2 separate regions of the Homo sapiens genome follow, and region 1 is linked to region 2. The links come from fine-mapping of genetic effects on gene expression. Tissue or cell type: whole blood. Region 2 holds a variant in brackets; the other region holds the start of a gene. All regions are shown on one strand. Distances are between the middles of the regions.

What was found. PIP is the estimated chance that this variant, and not a neighbour inherited with it, causes the effect.
Region 1: SCN4A starts here. The variant in region 2 is fine-mapped to the expression of SCN4A in whole blood (TOPMed, PIP 0.97).

Annotation. Positions count from the first base shown.
Region 1 is chr17:63,969,682-63,977,681 of GRCh38, reverse strand. It overlaps SCN4A (sodium voltage-gated channel alpha subunit 4), which reads left to right and starts at 4,764. Exons shown (of 24, transcript NM_000334.4): 1 at 4,764-5,113; 2 at 5,212-5,330; 3 at 5,457-5,546; 4 at 5,832-5,960; 5 at 6,429-6,520. The coding sequence starts at 4,841.
Region 2 is chr17:63,993,867-64,001,973 of GRCh38, reverse strand. It overlaps PRR29 (proline rich 29), which reads right to left and starts at 3,623. Exons shown (of 6, transcript NM_001164257.2): 1 at 3,550-3,623; 2 at 3,192-3,267; 3 at 2,900-3,006; 4 at 664-890; 5 at 437-507; 6 at 1-241. The coding sequence starts at 3,609. The coding sequence ends at 213. It overlaps PRR29-AS1 (PRR29 antisense RNA 1), which reads left to right and starts at 2,075. Exons shown (of 3, transcript NR_126169.1): 1 at 2,075-3,649; 2 at 4,052-4,209; 3 at 4,711-5,903. RefSeq lists an enhancer at 2,460-3,437 and a silencer at 3,691-3,740. The variant G/A (reference allele first, on the strand shown) is at 4,234.

The DNA.
Region 1 (8,000 bases), 24 kb after region 2:
GAACAGTGGAAGATGCAAACGTCTGATTGCAGTTGGGAGGGTGTGAGCCATCCCGGTGGAGCCGTCTGGGGGCAGTTGAATATACCAGCCTGGACGTCAAGGGAAACGTTTATCACATTCCCATGACATTACTATTATTTTATTCATGAACTTATTATTTTATAATTAATTTATTATTTTATTGTATTTATTGATTTTTAGAGACACGGTCTTGCTCTATCGCCGAGGCTGTAGTGCAGTAGTGCAATCACAGCTCACTGCAGACTCCACTTCCGTGGGTTCAAGTGATCCTCCTGCCTCAGCCTCCCGAATAGCTGGGACTATAGGCACACACCACCGCACCCAGCTAATTATTTTGTTTTTTGTGGAGACAGGGTCTCACTATGTTGCCCAGACTGGTCTCCAATTCCTAGGCTCAAACGATCCTCCCACTTTGGCCTTCCAAAGCACTGGGATTACAGGCGTGAGCCACCGTGCCTGGCCCCATGACATTATTTATGGTCATAGGAATGATGCCACCCTGAACCAGCTCGAACCCTGAAAAACATTAGAGATTGGGGACAGAAATCAGGACAAGCAGAGGAAAGTGATACGGAGCAGCCAGGGATGTGGAAGGGAAACAGCAAGCAGCTTCCATGGAGGCTGTGAGAATCAGGTGCTTCCAGAAAGGGGCTGTGGCCAACTGGGCTGCATGCTTCTGAGAGGCTCTGGGAGCTGAGGACAGAAGCGTGTTCACTGGACTTGGCAGCAGGGAGGGTGTTAGTGACTTGACAAAAGTAGTTTCAGTTGAAGGGGAAACGGAAGCCAGGTTGGAATGGATTGGAGAGAGAATGAAAGGTAAGGAAGTCAAGACAGCTGGTGTAGACACTTTCCAAGAAGTTTTACTGTGAAGAGGAAAGAAAAATAGGGCAATAGATGCAGGGAGGTGTGGGGCCAGGAGAATAGTTTTGTCACCACTGCCATTGTTTTTAAAGTGGGGGACACTAGAGTCTGTTCACAGATGGGGAGAGGTGGATGGGCAGTAGAGAGAGGGCACCTGGAGAGGTCTTTGAGAAGCAAGAGGGGCTGGGGTCCTGAGCCCCAGGAAAGCCTGACCCTTGCTTCTTATTATTATTCTAACAGGATAGAGGAAGACGGGGTGGGATGGGGAGATGGTTCTGTGGATTTGACAGTGTGTGTGTAGTGGTTCTTCCTTCCTCAGGGAAGACCATCAGCTGGGAGGCTCATGGGGAGGAGCGCGGAGGTCTGAGGAAAGAGGAGAAGGCATGAAATAGTTGTTTTCAAAAAGTGGAAAAGTGAGCCTACCAGAAAAATCCACACTACAGGGCTGGCAGGATTGAGGACAAACCCAGAATATGTGACCATGAATTTACGGTGAGCTCAGCCTAGTCATACCATTTCCCCAGCCACATTTCTCCAGCTCGGGGCTGACTTTGGAAAACCAGAGCTGGGGACATGCAGTTAGGGGTTCCCCAGGACTGTGTGATAGAAGGAGAGAGATCCCTCCTTCTGGGATCTCTCCCTGGGAGCTGTGGAGGAGGGACCAGAATGATGATCTTCTAAGTAAGCCTAGATGAGGAGGGACATGAAGTCAGAAGCAGGTGGAAAGGGAGAAAGTGCAGGGTCAAAGAACTGAAAGTGCCCAAAGATTATAGCAACCGGGCCCCTGAGCCAGGAGCTGAGAAGGTGGCAGGGGCAAAGGAAGAGTTTGAAGTGGTGATTTCAGAGGAGATATGGTTTCTGGTTATGATTTAGGTTCAGGGTATGCTTAAAGGAGAAAAGAGCTAAGGTAGAGTGTCCCTGTGATTCACTCACTTATTCATTTGATAAACTTTTATTGAGCTGGTGACACAAACAAGGGGAGAGTTCCACCCAGCCAGGGTACCCAGGGAGGGCTTCCTGGAGGAGGTGGTTCTTGTGTGGGTTGAGTCTAGAAAGATGAATGGAAGCTCTCCAGGGAGACAAAGAAGATGGGTGCTCTGGGAGGAGAGCAAACCACAAGCAAAGGCATGGGGGTTAGGGCAGGGGGGTGGAAAACAGCTTGGCCCATTTGTGAAAATGGAGGTAGCATGGCCAGAGGATGCGGGAAGGGTAGGCAATGAGGCAGGGATCTGATCATGGAGGGCCTTGGGAGCCCTGGGTAGGGCTTAGGACGTACTCCTAAGCAGTGGAAAGCCATTGAAGATTTAAGCAGGGGGTGAAATTTGTGACTTTACAAATATTTATGGCAGTCTAGGGGAGAGCCTGGTGGGAGGTGTTTCTTTGGTTGGTTTTTGAGACAGGGTCTCACTCTGTCACCCAGGCTGGAGGACAGTGGCACCATCATGGCTCACTGCAGCCTCGAACTCCTGAGCTTAAGGGATCCTCCTGCCTTCGTAGCTGGGACTACAGGAGCATGTCACCACGCGGGGAGGTTATTTGAACAGAACAGGTGAGGGGTGGAGGGTGGAGAGGGCAGTGACACTGGAGAGGGAGCATCAGTAGGGTGTGGAACTGGCCAGATCTACCACCATGATGCTTCGGGCAGCCACCAACCAAAGCCAGCTTCAGCAAGTGGAACCAGTGAGGACATTCCTCCCCTCACATTACAAAACAGCCAGACCTCAGGGGTAATGGAGGAGTAGGAGAAGAGGAAATTAGGAGGAAGTGAACATTTTGAAGGGAGAGGTGTACGCTGTGCAAAGAAAACAGGCTGCAGAGCAGGCCCCAGAGAAGAAGCATCTTCCAGGGGCAGGGAAGGGGCAGGTCCCAGAGCAGAGCTGGGGAGAGTGGCCGGACGCACAGGTGATGTCCTGCTCCCAAGAAGAAAGGCGGTGTGCGGTGTGGGAAGCTCAGGAGGGCCAGCGGGGAAGAAAACACTGGATCTGTCCCCTGGGGAGCTCTGGTGACTCAGGTGAGAGTCATTTCCTCGAGTGCTGGGGTTGGGAGCCAGACTATGTGTCTGTGGGCTTTTGTGGCCCTACTTGGGCTCGTGTAATGAAAAGAGTGAGCAGTATCAGGACAGGAGGATCATCACAGCAGGGACTGCAGACTGGGTGGGTGCACAGCAGCCCTGGGGTCTCTTCAAGGCCATCTGGCTGGTTGGCGCCTTCTGTGTAGTGACAAGCAGCATGTGGGGGTGTACGTGGAGTGGGTGATGGGGAGGAAGGTGGCAAGGTATATGACAGAGCTGTGAGATGCAACTGGGAAGGTCTGCATGTGGGGTGGCTCCAGGCCGGGTGTGCGTGCATGTGCCTGTGTGTGCAAGTGTGTGCACATGCACGCCCACGCTCACGACAGGGGCCAGTGAGCAGCTGAGGGCAGGGTTGGCAGGAATAAGCAGAGTCATCCCCGTGGAAACACGACTCCCTGGGTGCTGTAAGGAGCAGCTGGGAGCCAGGCACAAGGGCGTGGCCAGCTCTGCCCAGTGGCTCTGGCCTCTCCCTGGCCACCCTCCCCACCTGTTGAGCAAGCCTGAGAAGCGCCCGTGCTGACCAGGGCAGGGGCGCTGCTGCAAGGGTCAAGGCCCACTGGGAGAGGTCCACCCTCAGGTGTGGCTTTGGGGGTCTCTAGGGGTCTGTCCAGGTCCCTGTGGTGCAGGGGTGGCTCCAGGTCTGTCCATGTGGGTCTGGCAGTGGCTGCCTGCAGCTGGTCTGCAGGGGTCTCACTGCAACTGCCTGCTGATGTGGTCATTCCCCCAGGGCCATTTGCAATAAGTGATCCCCCTTCCCTTCCACAGGAATAGGCTCTGGAGGGCTGGGCAGAAGGGGAGAGGGGCCAGGTGGGGCCCAGACCACACAATGCTCACAGGCATCAAAGGCTCCTTGTGGATGCCCCTTCCCCCAATCCAGCTTGTGCTGGGACCACCAGCCAAAAGCAGTCCCCAGGAGCTCTAGCCCTGCCCCCACCATTGGAGTTGTCCATCTCCTTGTCCCTGTGACCTTCCCTGTACGTCTTCTCTTCCACGTTAGCACCTGCAGCTCTCCAGATGCAATGTTCCTCTCCCAGTTCACCCTGCCTGCCCAGTGGGCTAGAGCCCCCAGGGCTGTGGGAGGGAACTGCTAGGAGACCCCTGCCGGGCCCAGGGCCCTTTCTTCTTCCCTCTCCCAGCCCAACACCAAGTACCCCAAAGATCAGGAAAGAGGAATCCACACCCACCCCCATCTTTCTTTTCCCTTCCCTCCAGGCCAGGGATGGCAAACACAGGCAGAGGCACCACGGTCTTCCTCCTTGCGCCCCTGGCAGACATCACTAATCAATCACAGCAACCTTTTTGCACAGAGCCTGGCTGCCACCTTCATGGTCTCCACCTACATCTCCAGGTGGCCAATATCAGGATCCACGTCGGCCCTCAGGGTGAAGTCCCTGTGCCAGTCCCACTTTGATCTAACCCCCCAACCAGGCCCCTCATCCTGGCCTATCCAGAGGTCGCCTGAGCACAGCCAGCTGTGGTTCTCTCTCTGTCCCATTAGGCTGAAGCCACACAGTTCCCGGAGCTTGGGCCCAGGAGGCAGTCGAAGGCACTGGGGTGTTGACCCCAAGTCCCAAGGCCACAAAGAATCTGGTTGGTTTGCCGTCGGTCCTGAGGGCAGCCGCTGCCACTTCTGGGGAAAGTGTGGTGGGGGGGCCAGGGGTGATGCTCTGTGCCCAGCACCTGTGCAGCAGCAGCACCTTGCAGGCACATCTCCCAGTCCTGATAGAGTCTGCACGCCCACCTCCCCGGCTCGGCCACTGGGCAAGCAGGAGGTGAGGAGTGGACGGCCCGCCCAGGGAGGGGCGGCCGCCCAGCACCCCGGGGCTGCGCACTGCAGCTCCCCAGGCCACCCACCACCCTTCTGGTCTCTGAGCCCAGGATGCGAGGATGGCCAGACCATCTCTGTGCACCCTGGTGCCTCTGGGCCCTGAGTGCTTGCGCCCCTTCACCCGGGAGTCACTGGCAGCCATAGAACAGCGGGCGGTGGAGGAGGAGGCCCGGCTGCAGCGGAATAAGCAGATGGAGATTGAGGAGCCCGAACGGAAGCCACGAAGTGACTTGGAGGCTGGCAAGAACCTACCCATGATCTACGGAGACCCCCCGCCGGAGGTCATCGGCATCCCCCTGGAGGACCTGGATCCCTACTACAGCAATAAGAAGGTCTGGGCCTGGGAAGGCTTCCTCTGTCTGTCTGCCATCCATCCATCTGTCTGCCTGTCTGTCTGTCCCTGGGTCTCACAGCCTCTCTCCCACCTTAGACCTTCATCGTACTCAACAAGGGCAAGGCCATCTTCCGCTTCTCCGCCACACCTGCTCTCTACCTGCTGAGCCCCTTCAGCGTAGTCAGGCGCGGGGCCATCAAGGTGCTCATCCATGCATATCCTGCCCAAGATGGGAGAGGCGGGAGGGGTTAGGGATGGGCGAGATGGGGTGCTGTGGCCCAGGAGACCCTCTATCACCTCCCATCCTAGCTGCTTCCTCACTTTCCTTGACCCTGCCCCACGCTGTTCAGCATGTTCATCATGATCACCATCTTGACCAACTGCGTATTCATGACCATGAGTGACCCGCCTCCCTGGTCCAAGAATGTGGAGTAAGTCTCCCTGCTCCCTGAGCTCCCCAGCCCTGGGACACAGCCCATCTCAGGTGTTTGCACCTCTGTGTGGTGCTGCTCTTGTCTTTCAGGGAGACACACTGTCATTGTGACCCTCATCCACACCTTGAGTCCCTGGGGTGGCCATGCTATCACTCGCTAGTGTCCTTAGCCACCTGAGTGGCATATTTCATTTCTGTGTCCCTCCCTTCTGGGGGTCTGTCGTTGCCACACTGACCCCTACCCAGGTGACATGCCTGTCCCGGCCGGCCCTCTCCCCCCCAGGTACACCTTCACAGGGATCTACACCTTTGAGTCCCTCATCAAGATACTGGCCCGAGGCTTCTGTGTCGACGACTTCACATTCCTCCGGGACCCCTGGAACTGGCTGGACTTCAGTGTCATCATGATGGCGTGAGCAGGGGCCCCAGGACATCCTGAGGCTGGGGTGGGTGAGGGGAGGGGGCCAGGCCTTAAAGAGGGAAGCTGCCTGGGCTGAGGGCTGCAGGGGACATCGGTCAGTTGTGCAGATGGGGAGCTGCACAATTCTAGAAGCTGCCATTCTCAGGGTCTGGCTCAGCACTCTCCTGATGGACTCCTGATAATCACATGAGGCAGCCCTGACCCACAGACCCATGGGTCCTCACCTGCTGGGTGAGCCGGGCTATCTTTGCCATCCCCACTCCCCCAGAGCTCCTGCACTGTCCTTCCCAACCCTTGGGCTCCCAGAGGAGCTTTGGGGGTGTCTGCCCTGCCCCCCAGACCCTGTGGTACCCCCAATTTCTTGGGAATCCTCATCCCAGGCCTGGAGGAGCCCTGATTTCTGTCCTACCACCCACCCCAGGCTCTGACAGTCCCCACCCCCCTCCACCCCCTACCCAGGTACCTGACAGAGTTTGTGGACTTGGGCAACATCTCAGCCCTGAGGACCTTCCGGGTGCTGCGGGCCCTCAAAACCATCACGGTCATCCCAGGTACTGGGGAGGTGCAGGGACCCTCTGCCTGAGCTGAGAGACCCCCGTACCATGTGCAGGCCTGGAACCTGACTCAGTGTCACAACACTCCCAGGCTGGTGTTTTTGTAGAACTCACAGCAAAGCCTGGACATACAGGGGCCCACGTGACCAGAGGGCAGATGGGGTCCTACATGGAAGGATGGGCGTTTGAGAGGCAGCATGGCAAGTTGGTTAAGAGCACAGACTCAGCTGGGCATGGTGGCTCACGCCTATAATCCCAGCACTTTGGGAGGCCAAGGCAAGTGGATCAACTAAGGTCAGGAGTTTGAGACCAGCCTGGCCAACAAGACAAAACCCTGTCTCTACTAAAAATACAAAAATTAGCCTGGCATGGTGGTGTGCACCTGTAGTCCCATCTACTCAGGAGGCTGAGGCAGGAGAATCACTTGAACCTGGGAAACAGAGGTGGCAGTCAGCCGAGATCACGCCACTGCACTCCAGCCTAGGCAACACAGTGAGATTCCATCTCAAAAAAAAAAAAGAAAACAAATTAGCTGGGCCTGGTTATGCTCTCCTATAGTCCCAGCTACTTGGGAGGCTAAGGCGGGAGGATAGTTTGAGCCCAGGAGATCAAGCCTGCTATGAGCTGTAATTTTGCCACTGCACTCCAGCCTGGGAAAAAGAACAAGACTCTGTCTCAAAAGAAAAAAGCACAGATTCTGGAGCCTGACTGCCTGGGTTCAATTCTCACCTTTACCACTTCCTAACTTTAACTTTGGGCAAGTGCCTCGCCCTGTCCATGTCTCAGTTTCCTTATCTGTGGCATATGGAGACTCATAGTACCACTCCTTGGATTGTTGTAAGGATTAAATGCCTTAATATCTGTAAGGCCCTCACAGCCCCTGGCCCATGGTTTGTGATATACACGTGTGTGCTCAATAAAATAAGCAGACAGAGCAGAGAAGAGAGAGACACAAAAAGGCTCCATGAGGAAAAGTCCAAGCTCTGAGAGCTCAATTAGGAACACACCAGGCACCTGCTGAGCAATAAGGTCAGAGCAATTCCAAAGTAATGCATCAACAAGCATGAAATCAATAGAATCCGAACATTCAGACCTGCAAAAGAGCATGTGGAGAAACTGGAGATTCTCTCCCAGTAAAGGAGAGAAAGAAAAAGGATAGAGATCAGGCTCTGGGAAGAGGGAAAATTGTTAAATCCTAATATGAGAAAGTACCTGAGGCCAGGTGTGGTGGCCCATACCTGTAATCCCAGCACTTTGGGAGGCCGAGACAGGTGAATCACTTGGGGTCAGGACTCTGAGACCAGCCTGGCCAACGTGGTGAAACCCCGTCTCTACTCAAAATACAAAAATTAGCTGGGCGTGGTGGCATGTGCCTGTAATCCCAGCTACCTGGGAGGCTGAGCAGGAGAATCACTTGAATCGAGGAGGCAGAAGTTGCAGTGAGCCGAGATCACACCACTGCACTCCAGCCTGGGCG
Region 2 (8,107 bases):
ACACAACAGCACAGATCCGGCCCGTCCAGGAACTCATTGGCGTGGGGCAGGGACTGATTTCCCCAGGAGAAGAGGGCCTGGCTGAGGTTGAGGGAGTGAGAAGGACTGCCAGCCATGGGCACCGGGGAGTCGACAAGAGAGGTGCAGGAGGCGGCTCCGGGGCTGTATCCAGAGCAGGAAGCTGGTGCAGTTCCCAGGGCCGGGGTCTGTCCTCATAGGAGGCTCTCGGCATCATAGTAGTCTGGGGAAACAAGAACCTCATCTTGACTCCCTCCTGTCTCAGTGGACCCCAAAGAGGTAAAGGGAAGGGGACAGGCCAGTTGCCTGCAGCAGTGATGTTAGGAAACCCCCAAACCCCACCAGAGGGCACAGGGCCCTCCTGGCCTCCTGATTCACTCCCAGGCCTGGGCCCCGCTGCCCACCACCCCAGCCCTACCTGAAGCCGGGGGTACATCAGCACCCACAGTCCCTGTGGCACTGGGGGGTGGGGGTGGGGGCACAGCTCTCCTGAGATGGGGGAAAGAAAAAGACCCCCATCAGAGGCCCAGGGGTGGCCTCTGGAGTTTCACCCACAAGTTATCTCCACCGACCACCAGCCCCTGCACAGCTCTTCTGCAACTTCCAGCCCAGAGCAGAACCCTGGCAGCACCCAGCCTCACTTACACCTCCCTTTCCCTGGAGGCAGGACAGTGCTGAATCCTGGGCACGTCCTGCAAGTAGGGCTGACAAGCAGGGGTGGGGAAGAAGGGGGCTGGCCAGGGCAGCAGGGCACCCGGGGAGGGCATCAAATAGGGCAAGTAGTGGTGGTGAAACACCAAAGGCCCTTTCTCCCGCACGTCCATCTCCTCCTCCTCCTCCTCAGGCTCTTCCTGTGGAACCTCCAGGTAGACCTGGGGATTGTGCAAAACAGGGAGGGGAAATGAGAATCTACCATCAGGCTCTCCCCACCGCCACTCCTCCATTCCCCTAAGTTATTTCCTCCAGATAGGCTTTGTAAGAATGGCTTGTGGCCAGGCATGGTGGCTCACGCCTGTAATCCCAGCACTGTGGGAGGCCGAGGCGGGCGGATCACAAGGTCAGGAGATTGAGACCATCCTGGCTAACACGGTGAAACCCCGTCTCTACTAAAAATACCAAAAAAAAAAAAAAAAAAATTAGCTGGGCATGGTGGTGGGCGCCTGTAGTCCCAGCTACTCAGGAGGCTGAGGCAGGAGAATGGCGTGAACCCGGGAGGCGGAGCTTGCAGTGAGCAGAGATCGAGCTACTGCACTCCAGCCTGGGCGGCAGAGCGAGACTCCATCTCAAAAGAAAAAAAAGGAAAAAAAAAAAAAGAATGGCTTGTGTAGGCGGGGCGCGGTGGCTCATGCCTGTAATCCCGGCACTTTGGGAGGCTGAGGCGGACGGATCACAAGGTCAGGAGATCGAGACCATCCTGGCTAACATAGTGAAACCCCGTCTCTACTAAAAACACAAAAAAGTAGCCGGGTGTGGTGGCAGGCGCCTGTGGTCCCAGCTACTCGGGAGGCTGGGGCAGGAGAGTTGTTTGAACCCAGGAGGTGGAAGTTGCAGTGTGCCGAGATTGCATCACTATACTCCAGCCTAGGTGACAGAGAGAGACTCCGTCTCAAAAAAAAGAAAAAGAAAAGAAAAGAAAAAAAGAATGGGTTGTGTTTATTGAGCGTTTACTACATGCGGACAACAAATTGTGGAGACATTTACTCCTGTAGCTCAAGGACGTTGAGCAACTTGGCCACCCAGTTGATTCCAGGTGTGACCCCCAGAGCTGGGGCCAGGAGTCCACTGAGCTGTCCCCGGCCTCACCCCCGGCCCCTGGACCCACCTATGTGTCATCACTGAGGACCCAGGGGTGAGGGGTGGCAGTAGCTCCTCAGGGTCTCCTTCTGTCTGGATTCCTTGAACCCCTCTCCGCCTCCTCCGAGCTGAACAACATTCTCTCTCCACCCAGTCCCTGCTTCTCCTGACCTCAGGATGCCCACTATTGGCTGAGTAAGGCTCAGCCTTAGAGCTATATGCACATGCATGCACACACACGCTTGCACACACCCCCACTTGCACACACTTGCTTGCACGCACACACTTGCTTGCACGCACACACTTGCCTTCACAACCCGCTCGCACACACGTGCACGCACACCCTTGCACACGCACGTGAACACACACTTGCACACACATATGCATGTACACAGCCTTGCACACACACACGCATGCACACAGACACCCACTTGCACACACATACACACACACACTCTTGCACACACACACTGCCGCACACGGTTTCCCCCATTCTGTCTCCTGACTCTGCCCCTGCCAGCCTGGATGGGGGACACACCCTTCGCCTCCTCCAAGGGTCAAAATCCTACCTGGCTTTCAAGGGCTGGTTCTAAGATCCTCTGCTCCTCCAAGGAGCCTGTCCCCATCCCCCAACCCTATGTGCACTTGTGCTTTGTACCTCTCCATGTGCCATCACAGCCAACCTGGCTTTGTATCCCTAACCATTCATTTATTCATTCACTCGTTCAACAAATATCAGCTGAGCCCCTACACGGTGTCAGGCACCAGGCCAGACGCTCATGATGCATGGGGCAGGGTTACCAGGGTGCCTACCTTCCTGGAGCCTTAAGTCCAGTGGGGGAGGCACTACAGGGAAACCTCCTTGAAAACAAGACCTCGGTGGTCTGGACTTTGGGGGGTCTCTTCCCCGCCCCAACCTTTCATGGAGGCTGAAACATGACAGATGCCAAACAGCCCCAGCCAGAGAGACGGGCTGGCTTCCTGCTCCTCTGTCTCCCAGTTCTTTTCCCCCCTGAACAGGAACCCCAGGTGGATCCGCATCCCTGGACCCACAGGTGAGCGACCCCGGCGGCCCACCCACACGCACCTGAGGGCAGGGCGAGGCAGGCCGGGGCTGCAGCGCTCCAGCCACCAGGCGACTCAGCAGCAGCTGGTGCATCTGCGCGTTCTGCAGCATCATCAGTTCCAGCAGGTCTAGGAAGCGGGGTTCAGCAAGCCCACGCCGGGCCTCCGAGTCCCCCTCCCCCTGACACCCCTGTCCCGGGGGTGAAGAATGGGTTGGCGGGTTGTGCTGCGGGGACTCCCAGAGGATGTGCGAGGCAGAAGAGGGTGAGTGGTGGTGATGGTGGGGGTGGGGTGGGGGGACCCGGGAGTCTCACCTTCCTTCACGCGGCCTGGCTGCGGGGGCGCAGGTGGGACGGCCCACGAGAGGGGCTGCAGGAAGGTGACCCAGGGCTGGGGGTGTGCGCGGAGTCAGCCAGGTGGGGTGGGGGGAATGGATGGGGACACGTCGCGAGCCCCAACCCCCCCGGCCAGTGGCCTCCCTAACCCCGCAGGGGCCAGGTTCTCTCCTCCCCGCCCCGCGGCCTCCCTGCTCCCTGCCACGCCTCTTCCTCTCGGTTTGGGGCTGTCTCTCCTCGTCCCCCACCCCTCCAGGATCTGGCCCCTCCAGGGACAGCTCCCCACTCTGCCGTCTCCCAAGCTAAGGCAGGATCTGCTCCCGGGCTCAGCCCTCACCGTCGGGACTGCGCTCTGCGGTGGGGAGCGACCCCAGCTTCCGCCCGCCCCAGAGGCCATGGCTGGCGCCGGTTGCCTTGGCGACGCCGAGGACGCCAAGGTCTCTTCCCACGCATGCGCGGAGCCCGCCCGTGCTCCTGGGTCTTCCATCTCCCTGCTCCCTCCTGTCTCCTCCTCCGCGGACTTGGGGTCCCCAGGAGCCCTCCCCCGCCACCAGGAGGCCAGTCTCCTCCCCGGCATGTCCACCTCCCGCCGCGCTGCTCGGGGCTCCCCTCCCCTCCCCTTGCTGGTTCCCAGAACTGGGCCTGGGTTAGTGCGGGGAAGGGGGGTGTGTTTGTTGAGTGAATAAGCGAGTGACTGGGGAGGCTTGGTTTCGGGGTCCCAGAGCCCGATTGACTCAGCTGAAAAGTTCAGGAGAAACAGAGACTTTTGCAGGAGCAGGCTGGGGGCTAGGGCAGACGAGTGAGGAGGACAAAGGGTCTGTTCCCTGTCACTCTGACAGAGAGAGGGGCTTCCTGCCAGGAAAGAGTGGTTTCTGGAGCAGACCAAGGAAGGAAACACCGCCCGAATTCACGGAAGAGGCTGAGGACTCTGGCTGGAAACACGTGGCCGGCTTCTCGCCTCTCTCCTTGCGGCTATTTGCCCTGTTTCCTGGCCAAGGTGAGCCACTGCTCCTCAGACGAG[G/A]AAAATCGTGGTGACTTCAGCACCCGCGTCCCCAGTACTGTCTCCCGTACTGGAAAAGTTACCAAAGCACGCGTTCTTTTGACAGGAAGTTAGCAAGGTCTTCCTTGCTTAAGAACAGGTGAAGGGGGAGATCTATTTCTGCAGCTGTGACCATCCTAAGATAGGCCCCCGGCAGCAGTCAAGGAAAATCCAGACAGGAAGCTGGGCTTAGCACCCCGAGTAGCCCTTCCCCCACTCTCCATGTCAGCTCCCCTTCCTGCCAGTCCTGGAGTAAGAACCAGAAAGACCATTCCCACCTCCTCCTTTGCTCCGTAGTACCTGTCTCTAGGGGAGCAGGCTTGTGGGCATTACTTTACTGTCCCCATGGGTCTTATGGCTTCAACAGCCATTAACAAGCTGAGATCCAGGCACTGGGGTCACAGCCCCCCAGTGAGTAGAACACAGAGATGCCTCTCTCCATCTCCATTCTCATTCCAGGTAGAAAGAGAACAAGCCATTTTGCTCATCATCAACAAACCTTGACCAAGGAAGTGTCTGCGTGTGCAATGTGCCATCTGAACCCTGGAGGCATAAGCAGTATGGTCACTTGTCCCAGCATTGTTGGGAAGTGAAAATGTATCCATGGAAAGAGAGCAGAAAGATAAGACTACGCCCCGGGGATAATGAAAAAGAGAGGACTTGACCGCTGAGGGATGGAGTTCCAAGGAAGTCAGTCCTTGATGGGGCCAAGCAGCAGGGGAAGACGGGCGCTATCAGGCTGGGGACAGAGCCCAAGCCAAGACCCAGGTGTATGAATGGACAGGACCTGAGATGACCCGGTGGGTCAAACTGTCTGACTGTAGAAGAGGAGCTGGGCAGAGAGCAGAGGTCCAGGGACAGGCCAAGGTTTGGAATGCCAAGGTTTGGAATTTAGGCTTGGCCCTGTGGGTAATGGAGAGCTATCAGTGGGTTTCAAGCAAAAGGGAGATACCAAGTGCTGTGGCCAGCCATGTTTCAGGAAGATTGTTCTTGTCCACCTTTGTTTATGTCAACCACATTTAGAAGTAACAAATGTCTGATAGGGGGTCAGGTGCGGTGGCTTGTGCCTATAGTGCCAGCTACTCAGGAGGCTGAGGCAGGAGGATCGCTCAAGCCCAGGGATTCAAGGATGCTGTGAGCTACGATCACGTCACTGCACTCCAGCCTGGGAAACAGGGTGAGACCCAGTTTCTAAAACAAACGAACAAACAAATGTCTGATGGGGATGCATCCTCCCAATAGAATACTATTCAACCATGGATAATGTGGGAATAGAATATCTCTGTTGATGTGAAAAGTTGTCCAAGACAGTTGAGTCAAAAATATCAGTAAGCATAGTAAGATCTTATTTTTGTTTTAAAAATCATATGCATAAGTCCAGGCACGGTGGCTCACGCCTGTAATCCCAGCAGTTTGGGAGGCCAAGGCAGGCAGATCACTTGAGGTCAGGAGTTCGGGACCAGCCTGGCCAACATGGTGAAACCCTGTCTCTACTAAAAATACAAAAATTAGCCGGGAGTGGTGGCGGGTGCCTGCAATCCCAGACACTCAGGAGGCTGAGGCAGGAGAATCGCTTGAACCTGGGAGGTGGAGGTTGCAGTGAGCCGAGATCATGCCACTGCACTTCAGCCTGGGCAACAGAGACTCCATCTAAAAAAAAAAAAAATTCATATGCATATACATGTGTGTATGTACATGTGTGTGTGTGTGAATACACATACACACACACACACAGATCCAACTGTGGAGCAGCTGTCAGAGTTGGCCGACCCGCAGCCTCCCCTAGAGTCTTCTGCAGAGGGTTCCTGCCCTCACCTACAGCCCCTCCACCTGAGGACACCTGGCCACAGGTAAGACAGGCCAGAAGGTGGCACAGGAGCAGCCCACAAGCAATAATGGATGGGAGTTGATAGCTAAACTCGCAGCCTCCTGGTCTCAGTGCGACAACTCTGAGGTGTCTCCCACAGAGCCTCTCAGTGATGCCTGTGGGCTTGTGCCCAGGTGGCCCACAGTGACCTGCTCAGAAACACACACTTTACTGCCTTTTCTCCTCTCCCTGTCCCTTCTCCACTCTCTCGTAGTGCTCATTTGGATCTCCTTCCAAAGAAACGACTGCTCCCCAAGCCTGTGTCAGGGTCTGCTTTTGGGGGATCCCAACGAAGACATCAGCCTCCTACTCGCTCCACATCTGCCTCCAGGCTACTGAAAACTCCTGGAAAAGGGACTTAAGTAGCTCTATGATACATCTGCATTCAGAGATGTGAAATACTGAAATAGACATTGAAGAAAATGAGTTTGGGTGTACAATGGTCAATAGATTCAACTGAAGCAAGGCTGGAGGCAGGGGGCCCAGCAAAGAGGCTGCCACACTTGTCCCTCTAAGGAAGCCTGCAGTGGGCTAGAGGTGGCCGTAGAAAACAGTCAGGAGGAGGTGATCATTCCAATCCCTCAGAGGTAAAAGGGCATGTTAACCGCTTGTGTTTTGAAAAACAAGGCTGAGATCAAAACTATCTGACTTATGGTATTCCATTCGATGTATTTGTCAAAAGAAACGGAAGCATTTGCCATGAAGAAAGGAAAGCCACACACTTATCTGCCTGAGCTATTTTGCTCATAGAAGATCTCACATCAGCGCAGCAGAATAGGAGATGACTTACTTTCCTGCTATTTGACTTGCCTGCTATTATTTTCTTTGAGACACTGAACACTCCACCTATTTCTTTTTTATTTTCTTCTCAATAGGAACTCTTGTTGGCCTCTTTGGATTATTTTGTTTTTCAGATTTTTTTTTTTTTTTTTTTTTTAGTGATCCAAGACAATATGTGCTAAAAGTCCTCCCCATTGCCTTGGTAAATCTATTTCTGGGAATAAGCTAAACATAGGAGAAGATTTATACTAAAAAATGTTCATCATAGTGTTATTTTTAAAGGGTTAAAAATTAAACATTTGGCAGGACATGGTGGCTCACGCCTGTAATCGCAGCACTCTGGGAGGCCGTGGCAGGTGGGTCATTTGAGGTCAGGAGTTTGAGACCAGCCTGGCCAACATGATGAAACCCTGTCTCTACTAAAAATACAAAAATTAGCCAGGCTTGGTGGCGGGCACTTGTAATCCCAGCTACTCGGGAGTCTAAGGCAGGAGAATTGCTTGAACCCAGGAGGTGGAGGTTGCACTGAGCTGAGATGGTGCCATTGCACTGGGCGACACAGTGAGACTCTGTCTCGAAAAAAAAAGAAAAAGGAAAAATTGAACATTACCCAATGTCTAATAATAGGGGGATGGTTGAGTGAATTAAGGCAGTTCACTCAAAAGAATATTGTGCCATTATTAGAAACCATGGAACTGTGAAAATAAGCTACCTCCTCTTTTCCTCAGATGGAAATGGAGAGAAAAGGGCCCTTTCTAAGAATTCAAGTGGAAATTTCAAAGCTATTTTTGGCACAGTTGAGGAAGCATTGTTGAGAGAGTGACCCCAGCAAATCAGCCCTTTCCTTGGGTGCAGTTCCTAAAGATACACAAATTGGAAGGAGCTGCAATATCAAAGTTGAAGGAAAGGAACTAAGTATTGCTCTGCAGAATTATGTTATTGACTGGATATGCAGGAGAGAGAGAATCTTGAAAATTCAACAGTGAAGAAACCTCAACTTTCTGCCTAGAGGCTCTAGCTGCACTGTTTCTGCAAATTATGGTTATCCTGGTGAGATACTCGGGTGTGCTTTTGTCCAACAGACACCTGCAGGTACTCTGAGGACTTACAAGTGAGCGCATTGCATAGGTGGGATGCCCCGTGATGGGGACCTGGCTTTGAGGTCCCACTCCATTGGAACTGCACTGTGGGGTGGAGTACCAGAGCCTC